Linked DNA regions of Homo sapiens: all the other regions are linked to region 1. The links come from fine-mapping of genetic effects on gene expression. A gene starts in region 1. Each other region holds a variant in brackets. All regions are shown on one strand. Distances are from middle to middle. Region 1 holds the start of SLC22A5 (solute carrier family 22 member 5). Region 2 overlaps SLC22A4 (solute carrier family 22 member 4). Region 3 overlaps P4HA2-AS1 (P4HA2 antisense RNA 1).

Evidence for each region. PIP is the estimated chance that this variant, and not a neighbour inherited with it, causes the effect.
Region 2: its variant is the best candidate, but not a certain one, in a credible set for the expression of SLC22A5 in monocytes (BLUEPRINT, PIP 0.87).
Region 3: its variant is the best candidate, but not a certain one, in a credible set for the expression of SLC22A5 in monocytes after LPS (Fairfax 2014, PIP 0.83).

What each region holds. Positions count from the first base shown.
Region 1 is chr5:132,367,587-132,371,830 of GRCh38, forward strand. It overlaps SLC22A5 (solute carrier family 22 member 5), which reads left to right and starts at 2,124. Exons shown (of 10, transcript NM_003060.4): 1 at 2,124-2,779. The coding sequence starts at 2,387. MIR3936HG (MIR3936 host gene) reads right to left here and starts at 2,330. Exons shown (of 8, transcript NR_110997.1): 1 at 2,258-2,330. RefSeq lists a silencer at 2,007-2,326.
Region 2 is chr5:132,338,990-132,343,233 of GRCh38, forward strand. SLC22A4 (solute carrier family 22 member 4) reads left to right here. Exons shown (of 10, transcript NM_003059.3): 9 at 1,576-1,711. All of the region lies in intron 5 of MIR3936HG (MIR3936 host gene), which reads right to left. Among named protein-coding and RNA genes, the nearest start is that of MIR3936, 24 kb to the right of the region's middle. The variant G/T (reference allele first, on the strand shown) is at 2,365.
Region 3 is chr5:132,185,828-132,190,071 of GRCh38, forward strand. P4HA2-AS1 (P4HA2 antisense RNA 1) reads left to right here. Exons shown (of 3, transcript NR_047470.1): 2 at 1,468-1,546. Among named protein-coding and RNA genes, the nearest start is that of P4HA2-AS1, 3.1 kb to the left of the region's middle. The variant C/A (reference allele first, on the strand shown) is at 2,336.

The sequences.
Region 1 (4,244 bases):
AGTATACTGCATTGTTTTCAGTCCCTTTCAGGAATGTTATCTGATGCCCAACTGATATTTCTCAAATGTTAAAATAAGACTTCTTCATCTTGTTTGGTCTGGACAGAGGTCAACATTCTTCTCATAAAAGCTTTCATTTCTTTTGAAGCATTAAAATAATATTTTAGCACACAAAAAAGGAGTTTATTTTCAAGAAGCTTTGCTTTCTTTTTCAGTTAGTTCTAGATAAGAACTATAACTTCACATAAGATGTTAGAAGGATTTAAGTACATTGCTGAAGGTATAACCATCCATCTTCAGGAAGTAAGAATAGTGAATAGTAAGTATAAAGAAACAAACAAGTCCTGTGATAACATCTTTATCATAATTTTTTTAAGTCTATTATGCTTTATGCAAATGTTTAGATTTCCTTGTTAAAAATCTGCTGGCCAGGTTAGGTTCCCTTTCTGTAGCTTTATTTTCAACTCATAATATAGTGACTATTAAATATTCTTTACTCAACACATTATATTGTAAAAATATACACTTAGTTCTGTTTCTATCACTAAGCCACTACTATTTTAAAAAGGAATATCTTGCATTGTTAAGTTTAGCAGCCCAAATTCTTAAAGGCCTTAGGAATGGTGCTGTCCAATAAGATAACCAATAGCTACATGTGGCTACTGAGCACTTAAAAAATGAGTCTGGCCAGGCATAGTGGCTCACGTCTGTAATTCAGCATTTTGGGAGGCTGAGGTGGGAGGATTGCTTAAACCCAGGAGTCTGAGACCAGCCTGGGCAACACAGGGATGCCTTGTCTCTGTAAAATAAAAAAAATAAAAAAATTAGCTGGGCACGGTGGCATGTGCCTGTAGTCCTAGCTACTCAGCAGGCTGAGGCAGGAGGCCCACTTAAGCTTAGGAGTTCAGGGCTGCGGTGAGCTATGATTGTGCCACTGCACTCTAGCCTGGGTGACACAGTGGGACCGTGTCTCCAATAAATAAATGAATAAATAAATATTAAAAAATAAAAAGTGTGGCTAGTCCAAATTGAAATGTGCTGTAAAATACACACTGGATTCCTTTTTTTTTTTTTTTCAAATCCTGAGAACCTGTGAAACACACTGAATTCTTAAGATTTAGTATGAGGAGGGGAAAAAAAGATCAATGATTTACATATAACAATGTAAAATATCAATAATTTCTATATTGATTATATGATGAAATGATCATGTTCTGGATATACTTGATTAAATATACCATTAAAGTTAATTTCATCTTTTATTTTTACTTTTTAAATATGCAGCATTGCCCAATAAAATACAGGACAACCAGTTACATTTTTATTTTATATATTCCTGCTTGGGACATAATATTTAAAAATTATTCATTCTATATCTGAAATTCAAATTTAACTAGGAGTCCTATATTTTTATTTGCTAAATCTGGCAATTTTATTAATATGGCTACTAGAAAAGTTAACATAACAAATGTAGCTCCTTATCCTATGGAACATTGCTGCTTTAGAATCACCTCGCTGCTTTTTTTTTTTTTCCAGTTAGCTTCTGAATAAACTCTGCACGGAAATAACTAATCTGTGGGGAATATTTAACCCTAGGCTAGGATCGTTAATCGTGAAGTTAAATTTTTACATCTGCATGAACAAAATGGCTTGTTACAGACGAAAATGTGGAAAGGGCATCTGGACTAGAATGAAAAGTCATAGCTCCCAGCCTCTCTACTAGGGTAGTTAACAGTCCCAGGTTCAAAATAATCCCCGTCCCTCTTATAAGATTAGGCGGTGTCAAGAGCAACTATCTGTGAGACCCTGGGCCAGTGACTTTCTCCTTACCTCCGCCCCCAAGTAGGCCTTGCAAAAAGCTGGGAGGGGTGCGTTTTCAACACTGGAGCTTCGCGGCCGCTCTCCCACTCGCTCCCCGCCCGGCGCTAGAGGAGCGAGTTCGGACTCGGACCCCAAGGCCTCGAGTCCCGCTGCCTTCCTAAGCCGAGCCCGGGCTACCTCGGTCGTCCCCAGCAGGCTTGGCTGGCAGAGGCCGGGCCTCGCCAGGTCCCCAGGACAGGCCCCGCCCGGGCCTCAGGTGCACTCCCGGCCCGCCCCGCGCCCTCGCGTCCCGCCCCAGCTCCGCCTTCGCCGGCGCCGCTCTGCCTGCCAGCGGGGCGCGCCTTGCGGCCCAGGCCCGCAACCTTCCCTGGTCGTGCGCCCTATGTAAGGCCAGCCGCGGCAGGACCAAGGCGGCGGTGTCAGCTCGCGAGCCTACCCTCCGCGGACGGTCTTGGGTCGCCTGCTGCCTGGCTTGCCTGGTCGGCGGCGGGTGCCCCGCGCGCACGCGCAAAGCCCGCCGCGTTCCCCGACCCCAGGCCGCGCTCTGTGGGCCTCTGAGGGCGGCATGCGGGACTACGACGAGGTGACCGCCTTCCTGGGCGAGTGGGGGCCCTTCCAGCGCCTCATCTTCTTCCTGCTCAGCGCCAGCATCATCCCCAATGGCTTCACCGGCCTGTCCTCCGTGTTCCTGATAGCGACCCCGGAGCACCGCTGCCGGGTGCCGGACGCCGCGAACCTGAGCAGCGCCTGGCGCAACCACACTGTCCCACTGCGGCTGCGGGACGGCCGCGAGGTGCCCCACAGCTGCCGCCGCTACCGGCTCGCCACCATCGCCAACTTCTCGGCGCTTGGGCTGGAGCCGGGGCGCGACGTGGACCTGGGGCAGCTGGAGCAGGAGAGCTGTCTGGATGGCTGGGAGTTCAGTCAGGACGTCTACCTGTCCACCATTGTGACCGAGGTGGGTGCCGGCCCCTGCTGGGGCTGAGACCAGGGCTCGGAGGACCTGTCGCGGTCCTTGAACCCGAGCTCCTCTCTCCCAGATGCGCACTGGACGCTGTCACTCCCCCTCCCCCAACGGTCAACACCCTAGCGATGGAGACCCTCCAGCCAGGTGGCTTGGGAACGCTTCACGAGGTGACCTCCAGCCACAGTGTGCTCCTCCCTGCACAGGTGGTCAGTCTGGCCTCCCGTCCTGATGGCCACTTTGAAGAGGGTACCAGGAAGGTCCTGGCGGTCCCTGGGCGATGCTCTATGGCCCTGTGTGTCCAGGACTTACTCTAGTTGGGGTTGGGGGTGGTAAGTAGCAGAGCCAGGACTTGGGCCAGGGGCTATCCCGTTTTTCCTCTAGTCTCTTGATTTCTTTTTAGAAGAGAAGAAATACTTCTCTTTCCTGAACTTTTAAAAGTTAAATAAAGCATGTGTATACAACTGCCTCTTCCCTTTTTCCTCTAGTTACTCCTTCCCCTACCGTCCACAACCCAAAAACGACAATCTGGTCATGCCCTGTAAGTAATTGTTTGCCTTTTCCCATGGTCAGTTGTCAGTCTTTTTTTTTTTTGAGACAGAGTCTCCCTCTGTCACCAGGCTGGAGCGCAGTCGTGTGTTCTTGGCTCACTGCAACCTTCGCAGTCGTGCGTTCTTGGCTCACTGCAATCTTCGCCTTCCGGGCTCAAGTGATTCTCCTGCCTCAGTCTCCGAGTAGCTGTGAGCCACGACGCCCAGCTAATTTTTGTGTTTTTAGTAGAGACGGGGTTTCACCGTGTTGGCCAGGATGGTCTCGATCTCTTGACCTCGTGATCTGCCTGCTTCTGCCTCCAAAGCTGGGATTACAACCGTGAGCCACCACGCCAGGCCGTCAGTTGTCACTCTTTAAGATCCATTCATCTGAAGATGGGTTCAGGGTGACTTGTTGACCTGGAATATTTTCTCAGGTATTATGAGGCAAGGCTGTCGGCCAGATTTAGTTAAAGCATACAGCCTTAGGTCATAGGGTGTAGGGGAGCCTTTCTCATTTCTCATCCCCTTGGATTTTCCCTCTGGGTGGTTTTGTCTGTCCCCTCCGAACCTGTTGGAGCAGTTGTTGGAGCTGGATGTAGGAACATGATGTTAATGATGTATGTGTTTTGTGTCTTTTTTAGACACTGGCACTCTAGCTCCCTGAAGTTTCAGCAGCATTGAGTAAGTAGCCAGTGAATAGCCCTCATTGATAGATAGGCTCACTAAATGTGCAGATGACCAATTCGCAGGTTAGAGAAGGCTTCCCAGAAGAGGAGGCCTCTCCGTGAGCCTAGGGTGTTCAGCTCAGCATAATAGTGAGCTGAAGGCCCCAGTGCAGCAGCAAGAAACCACCCAGCAGGACGGCGGAGTTCACAGAGAGGGGAGAGTTCATAGAGAGGGAGAGTGCCACAGGCCCTGGCACAGCT
Region 2 (4,244 bases), 29 kb before region 1:
ATCTTCACAATTTATGTTCAGAGATTGCAGTAAAGACAGGCGTAAGAAATTATAAAAGTATTAATTTGGGGAACTAATAAATGTCCATGAAATCTTCACAATCCACATTCTTCTGCCATGGCTTCAGCCAGTCCCTCCTTTCGGGGTCCCTAACTTCCTGCAACAGGTGTATTCATCTTTTTCTTTTTGACTTGTGCAAACTCTTTGCAATGGAAGAAATTAGCCCCTTGTATATATGTTGTAAATATTTTTCCTAGTTTACCATTTGTATTTTCACTTTATGATATCTTTGTAATGAAGACAATTTTAGTTTTTATATACTCAAAGGTGTCAATCTGAAATGAAACTACAGAGGTGTTTCAGCGGCATGTTCAATCTGATGTAGGATCTGACACCCCATGCCTGGTCCTCATTAAGGACTCTACTGGTGAGAAATGCAGACACACCTCATCAATTGGGCAATTGGTTACCTACTGGTACACACGTACACACACACACACACACACACACACACCTGAAAACATGTATGAATTCTCAGGAAAGGTATAATCCAAACCCTTACAGAGAAAGAGAAACATTTTCCTAACAAACATATTCTGCACAGTTGCCCTGTGCCACACCTGAGATAGCAGATTATACAGAGTGGTGTTATTTTTCCCTTTGTCCTTCCCTGTACTTTCAAACTATTTCAAACTATGCTCAGATGGTCCAGTGGTCAGACACTGGTACATAAGACAGGGAGTCCAAGAGTCTCCTACTCCACACAGCTACTCCTGTTAGTGACACAGAGGCCTCAGAGAAGCTGCAATAACAATATTTTCCTTATGTTTTGGGTCAAATGAAATCCATGGGTGTGCTGTTCCTCTGTAAGCTCTGTATGTATACAGGGGCAAAGCAAGATGAGGATCTGTTTTTCTCCTGTGTGAGTAAAGCTTCACAAAGAGATTACATATTAACCCAAGACATGTAAGTGCTCCAAAAAGAAGCCAAATCCAGGCACACAGTGCCTTTACAGAATGTGCCTGATACTTATAATTTACTGATTTAATCTGAAGTGAACATAATACTTAGTTGTTTTTTTTTTTTTTTTTTTTTTTTTTGAGTCTCATAGCCCTGTGGACCTAACTTTCCACTGCAGCCTACTAGTTTGGGCAAAAGCAGAGTCATGCCAGACCTATCATAGCCAAAACCTATCCCTGAAACATCCTGGTTAACCTCCTTCTCCTTGATGTCCTCCCATCCCCCATTTCCAATTACCTCCACCTTAAGAGGAGAACTCTGGTAGGCAAAGAACTCTACCAAAGGAACATCTGTCACACATGACTGAGTAGTAGCTTAGAGGATACCAGTTGACAGGAAAGAATGAAAAGCCTTATGATAATGCAAAAGGATTATAGACATGCACAATGTCATCTGCCAAAAAGAAACTGATATTTTGCTTACTTTTTTTTCTCTGAAAATGTTCAGATTTAAATCCATTCTCTTATACTGTTCACCAACTTCACAAAATGATGCTCAAGAGTGCCCAGAGAGTCCTCCTATCTGATTGATGTTCTTATGTCCCGGGCTTTACAGGTGCTTACAACAGAATGCTGCCCTACATCGTCATGGGTAGTCTGACTGTCCTGATTGGAATCCTCACCCTTTTTTTCCCTGAAAGTTTGGGAATGACTCTTCCAGAAACCTTAGAGCAGATGCAGAAAGTGAAATGGTAAGTAGGACTTTTAACAAAATGATACCAAAATGCCTTAGGGAGAATAAGCATGGAAGAATAGCTAGGAAGGTTCTGAAATAGAAGAGTAATAAGTAGAGACTAGCTCTATCAGATAATAAAGCATATTGTTGGCTGGGCACAGTGGCTCACGCCTGTAATCCCAGCACTTTGGGAGGCTGAGGCAGGTGGATCACCTGAGGTCAGGAATTTGAGACCAGCCTGGCCAACATAGTGAAACCTCATCTTTACTAAAAATACAAAAAATTAGCTGGGTGTGGTGGCAGTCACATGTAATCCCAGCTACTCAGGAGGCTGAGGCAGGAGAACTGCTTGACCCAGGAGGCAGAGGTTGCAGTGAGCTGAGATCACACCACTGCACTCCAGCCTGGGCAACAAGAGCAAAACTCCGTCTCAAAAAAAATAAATAAATAATAGGCCAGGCGCGGTGGCACATGCCTGTAATCCCAACACTTTGGGAGGCTGAGGCAGGCGGATCATGAGGTCAAGAGATCGAGACCATCCTGGCCAACATGGTGAAACCCTGTCTCTACTAAAAATACAAAAATTAGCTGGGCATGGTGGCACACACCTGTAGTCCCAGCTACTCAGGAGGCTGAGGTAGGAGAATTGCTTGAACCCGGGAGGTGGAG[G/T]TTGCAGTGAGCCAACATCATGCCACCGCACTCCAGACTGGGCAACAGAGCTAGACTCTGTCTCAAAAATAATAATAATAGTAATAAAGCATATTGTTGAGCAATAGTAATTAAAACAATGTGATAATGGTATAGGAATAGAAACCAATGGAATAGGATAGAGTTCAGGATAAAACCCAAGAAAATATAAAAATTCAGTATGTAATAAAAAGTAGCAAAGTCAAGGGGGAATAGTTATTCAGTAAAAGGTATTAGAACATTCAGCTAGACATTTTGAATAAATTAAAAAGTTGTCTCTTTAAAAAATGCATTGGCTGGGCATGGTGGCTCACACCTGTAATCCCAGCACTTAGGGAGATTGAGGCAGGCAGATTGCTTGAGGTCAGGAGTTCGAGAACAGTCTGTCCAACATGGTGAAACCCCATCTCTACTAAAAATACAAAAATTAGCCAGGCATGGTGGCGCACCCCTGTAATCCCAGCTCGCGGGAGGCTGAGGCAGGAGAATCGCTTGAACCAGGGTGGTGGATGTTGCAGTGAGCCGAAATCGCGCCACTACACTCCAGTCTGCGTGACAGAGCGAGACTCCGTCTCCAAAAAAAAAACACATCAAGATAAAATCCAGACAGTTAAAAAATTTAGGCCTAAAAATGTAAAATCATAAATATACCAGGAGGAAACAAACATTTTTATAACCTTAGAGAAGATCTTACTGAGCATAACATAAAATCAAAGAACCATAAAGGAACAGATTGATATATCTGATTGTACATTTTTTAAATTATTGGCAAGGCAAAAAGAAACCACCCACAAAGACAAAAGTCAATAAGCCAGGAGAAAATATTTGCTACACAAAACCTAAACATAAGGCTAATATACTTAATATACAAAAAGCTCATAGTAACCAGTGAGAAAAAGACAAACAATTCAGTAGGAAAACCAGCAAAGGACAAGAACAGACAGTTTACAGAAGAAGTCACTTCAGTGTCCAATATATACATGAAAAAAGTTATTTGTCCACATTAATAAGGAAATGCAAAAATAAAACAATTCAACATCTTTTTTTGGCTTATGAGATTGCGCAAGGGTTTTTCTTCTTGACGCAAACCAATTCTGACACCTATTGAGTGTCCTATAATGCAGTTCAATTTTGACAATACCTAAATTTAGCATCAGACTCCACAGGTGTAAAGACTCAGTCCCACAATACTGCCTTGCTTCACTTGCCACTCACAAATGTCAGGTCCCCAGGTTACCCACATTTCTCTCTGACTTTGCTACCAAGTCTGGGGTTCCAACAAATCCCCTCCTTGGGTTTGATTATTTGCTAGAATGACTCACAGCACTCAGAACACTGGCCACTAGCGGTTTCTTACAAAGGATACAAATGAACAGCCAGATGAAGAGGTACATACAGAGAGGTCTGGAAGGGTCCTGAGTGCAGAGGTTCTGTCCCTACGGAGTTAAGGTGCACTGCCCTCCTGGCATGTGGATGTGGTCACCAACTCGGAAGTTCTCCAAACCCCATCATTTAGAGGTTTTCATGGAGGTTTAGTCATGTTGGCATGATGGATTATTAAGTCTATCCCCAGCCTCTCTCCTCTCCCCAGAGGTTCCAGGCTTCTAATCCAGGCTTAGTCTTCTGGTGACCAGCCCCCACCCTGAAGCTATCTAAGGGCCCAGCCAAGGGTTGCCTCATTAGAACAAAAGAAGCTTTTATCACTCCCTATCACTCCAGAAATTATAAGAGATTTAGGATCTCTATGTTAGGAGCCAGGGACAAAGACCAGTATCTTTTTATGACACCACAGCAAACATTTAAAAGATTAGTGGTATTTAGGAGAAGTTTAGAGTTTCGAGTAACACTGCCTGGCTTTAAAT
Region 3 (4,244 bases), 180 kb before region 1:
GTCCAATTATATCCATGGCCTCAAAGATATTTTATGTCAATATCTTTTTTCAATTTATTAATAATTTCATAAGAGCCTATATCTCTTTTCTCAAAATAAAAAACTTCTAGTGTTATGACATTATTCTTATGCAAACATACTTAATAATCAGATACATTTGTTCATGATGGGCTATATCTGATGTACAAAGAGTAAGGAAAAGTATTTTGCTTTAGTCTCAATAGTATATCAGATCTAACATGATTTCCTAGTAGTTTTATGTGTTCTCCCAAAATTCATATGCTAAAGTCCTAACCCAATATGTGACTGTATTTGGCAACAGGGCATTAAAGACATAATTAAAGTAAAATGAGTTCATATGTGCAGGCTTTAATCCGATATGACATAGACAACACATAGACCAAGAGGTGACATAGACAACACACAGACCAAGCCAGGCAGTGAGGCCTCAGAAGAAACACAACCTGTTGACACCTTGATCCTAGACTTCTAGCCTCTGGAACAGTAAGAAAACAAATTCCTTTTGTTTGATCCACCCAGTGTGTGGTATTTTGTTATTGTAGCCCTATCAAATTATATACATTATAAATTCATTTTGAATTCTATTAGACAAATAAGACACAAATTCCTTTTTATGATTAGCTACATCAACATTATAGTGACTAATTCAACGAAATTAAGAAACATAACATTTGTGTTTTTCACTTTTAGAAGCAACTTACTATGGCTACTAAAATAATGTCCAAAGCATAACTGACCGGCAGTTGGGAGACAAAAGGGTATATGATACTTAATTCTATGTGTCAACTTGGCTAGACAATAGTGATCATTTGTTTGGTAAAATTCTAGTTTAGATCTTCATCTCACCATCTTAGTTTTAACCAAACAAAAAAATTTATGTTGCCAGGCAAACAAGAGAGGACTATACAAAATATAACTATCAAAAAATGGCAAAGGCAGGGGGAGGTACCATGGGAGATAGTGAATATAAACTAAATGATCATCTCTCAAATTTCTGAAGTGGAAAAATCAAGGAACAGCATTTTATAAGCATTTAATAGGCAGAAAAATTTAAAATAATTTGAAAAGGTTCCTCTAGGAAGGGGGACTAGGAGTTGGCAGTAAGGTGGGACAGCAACTATTTAGGGTAATTTCCTTTGTCCCTTATTTTTTAAGCCACGTGCATGTATTTTAAACTAGGATAGCACAGTAAACAAATTCCTGCTCATACTTCAAGACCCAGCTCCAACGGTGCCTACTGTAGTGCCAACTTCTTGGTTAAAGTAGACCTTCACTCTACTGTGCTCCTCAAGCACATTCTCTGTTACCAGACTTCTCACATTTCACACACCTATTTATGAGTCCCTTCCATTGCTCAGAATTCTTTAAAGATAAAGACAGTCTTTATGTTTCCCCATCAAATCTTTAATAACTGTTAAATGCATGAAAATATAAATTTTGTTTTAGAGCAAAGGCTTTTGGAAGCTGCCACAGTTTCATTCCCAGGTCCTCCACTTACCAGCAATGAGACTTCATGTGACCTCAGGTATATTACCTAACCTTTCTGACGTTCTGCTTCTTATGTATTCGTTCTGAAGAGTTGCTGAATGCAGTAATAGACTGTAACATCCCTAGCACAGTACCAAATGCATAATGAAACGCTCAATAACTCTTTACTGCCCTAGTGAACATATTAATGCCAAGCTCAATTAATAAGGATTGCTGAAAGCAGTGCCCTGGCTCTAAGACAGAAGTTATCTCATGCTTGTTCCCAGGACCATGCTGGGATTGATAGGCAGACATCAACATATAATAAGATTCTTTAACGGCTGATTCCATGCTTAATGTCAGAAATGCTCAAGATGAGTGTGAAGCGTCTTGTTATACTAGGTAACAAAAGAAGATATGAAAGATAAGGTTTTCTGTATCAGTATAGGAAAAATGATTTTTTAAAAAATGAATAGGCCACTTCTACTTCCAAGATAGAGTAGCTTATGGTAGACCAATTTTCATTCCTAGAATAAAGCTGAATAAAATCTCTTAAAATTGTTGGAAGACATCAGTCAATTGCTGAAGCAAAAAGAGTTTGAGCATCAAGATCCTGAAGAAGGATAAATCTTGTGGGTGAGCCAAAAGTCTGTAGTCTCTTTTATCCTTAAACAATTTACTGGCCGGGCGTGGTGGCTCATGCCTATAATCCCAGCACTTTGGGAGGCCGAGGCGGACAGATCACGAGGTCAGGAGATTGAGACCATCCTGACTAACACAGTGAACCCCCATCTCTACTAAAAAATACAAAAAATTAGCCGGGCGTGGTGGTGGGCACCTGTAGTCC[C/A]GGCTACTCGGGAGGCTGAGGCAGGAGAATGGCGTGAACCCGGGAGGCGGAGCTTGCAGTGAGCCGAGATTGCACCACTGTACTCCAACCTGGGTGACAGAGCCAGACTCCACCTCAAAATAATAATAATAATAATAATAATAATAATTATTATTATTATTATTATTATTTACTGATTGTAGCCATGGGGTAAGAATGAGGATCCAGAGCAATGGGCAACTACTAAGAGGCAGAGAAACCAAAATAATTTTTGACAGTGTCAAGGGGCATTGAAAAACCAAAATTAGCCAGTAGTTTCTCAGAATATTGAATAAGAGGGAGGAGTGGAGAACTTGGCCACTCAGCCTGTTTACCCACTGAGGCATTTTCTGAATTCTGACGCTGTGCAGAATGCAAGGCTAAGAAGGTAAGCAAAAAATATCTGCTTAGATTCAAAAATTCAAATTCTTTGAAAAGGAGGATAAATTTTTTGGGCTGAGTCTGGTACTGAGAAGACAAGAATTAGAGTTGAGGAACTGCCAGTGGAAACAGATCCAGTGAACACACTAGGCTCTCAATTAGAAAATCCTGGAGGACTACATCCTATAAGGGGGGAAATAAGGGTAAACCAGAGATAGAGTCTTAAGAAAACTACCACCCAGTCTTAATTTTAAGTCAGCTCAGATCCTTACTGGATTAAGGTGATTGATCCCCACTCTGCATAGTAGAGGAAAGGGTGAGCCCTTTGTGCAGGAGGTTATCCATCCAGAGGCTCTACAATTTGTCATACACATTCAATCAAAAATTGCCAGGCATATCAACAGAGTGGACCAAATGACCAGAAACTAAGGAGGGAAAAAGACAATAGAAAGAGAGCCATAGAAAATCGAAATCATGGCGTTATCGGACAAAAAAATTCACATAACTGATTTATCAGTCCGAGAAAAACACAGAGAAAACAGAAGACAGATTCTCCAGAGAGTTAAAATCCATTAAAAGGACATGAATGGGCCAACCGTGGTGGCTCACGCCTGTAATCCCAACATTTTGGGAGGCTGAGGCAGGTGGATCACTTGAGGTCAGGAGTTTGCGACCAGCCTGGCCAACATGACAAAACCCCATCTCTACTAAAAATACAAAAATTAGCTGGGTGTGGTGGTGCGTGCCTCTAATCCCAACTACTTGGGAGGCTGAGGTGGGAAAATTGCTTTAATCTGGGAGACAGAGGGTGCAGTGAGCTGAGATCCCGCCACTGCACTCGAGCCTGGGTGACAGAGAAAGACTCCGTCTCAAGGAAAAAAAAAAAAAAAAAAGACATGAATGGATATTTTAGAACTGAGAAATATAAGAAAAATGAAATTAAGAACTCAGTAGATGGGTTTAGCAGCAAAAGTAATAAATGAATTGCAAGACAGATCAGTATAAAATATCTAGTCTGAAACACAAAGAAAAAAGCATGAGAGACACAAGAACTGGAGATATATAGAGCACTATGAAAAGTTCTAACATTCAGATTACTGAAGTCTCAGAGCAGATAGAGAAAAAATGGGACAGAAACAATAGTTGAAGATATAATGTCTGAGAAATTTCCAAAATTGATCAGACATCAACCCAGAAATTCAAGAAGCTAAATGCCAAGCAAGAAAAGAAAAAGAAACCCATACTAAGTACACCATAGTAAAACTACTGAAAACCAAAAAGAAAAAAATCTTTAAAGCAGCCAGGTGAAGGCAAAATCACCTTCAAAGGAACAACAAAGGACCAGATAGCGACTTTTCAACAGAAATGGTATAAGCCAGAAAACAAAGAATTACATCTTTAAAGTCCTTAAACAGACTCCTGTATGCACTTGATAGAAGACAGAATTAGTGAACTTTGTACAAAACAGCTATAAAGTTCTCCCCAAATATAGCATATATATAAAAATATG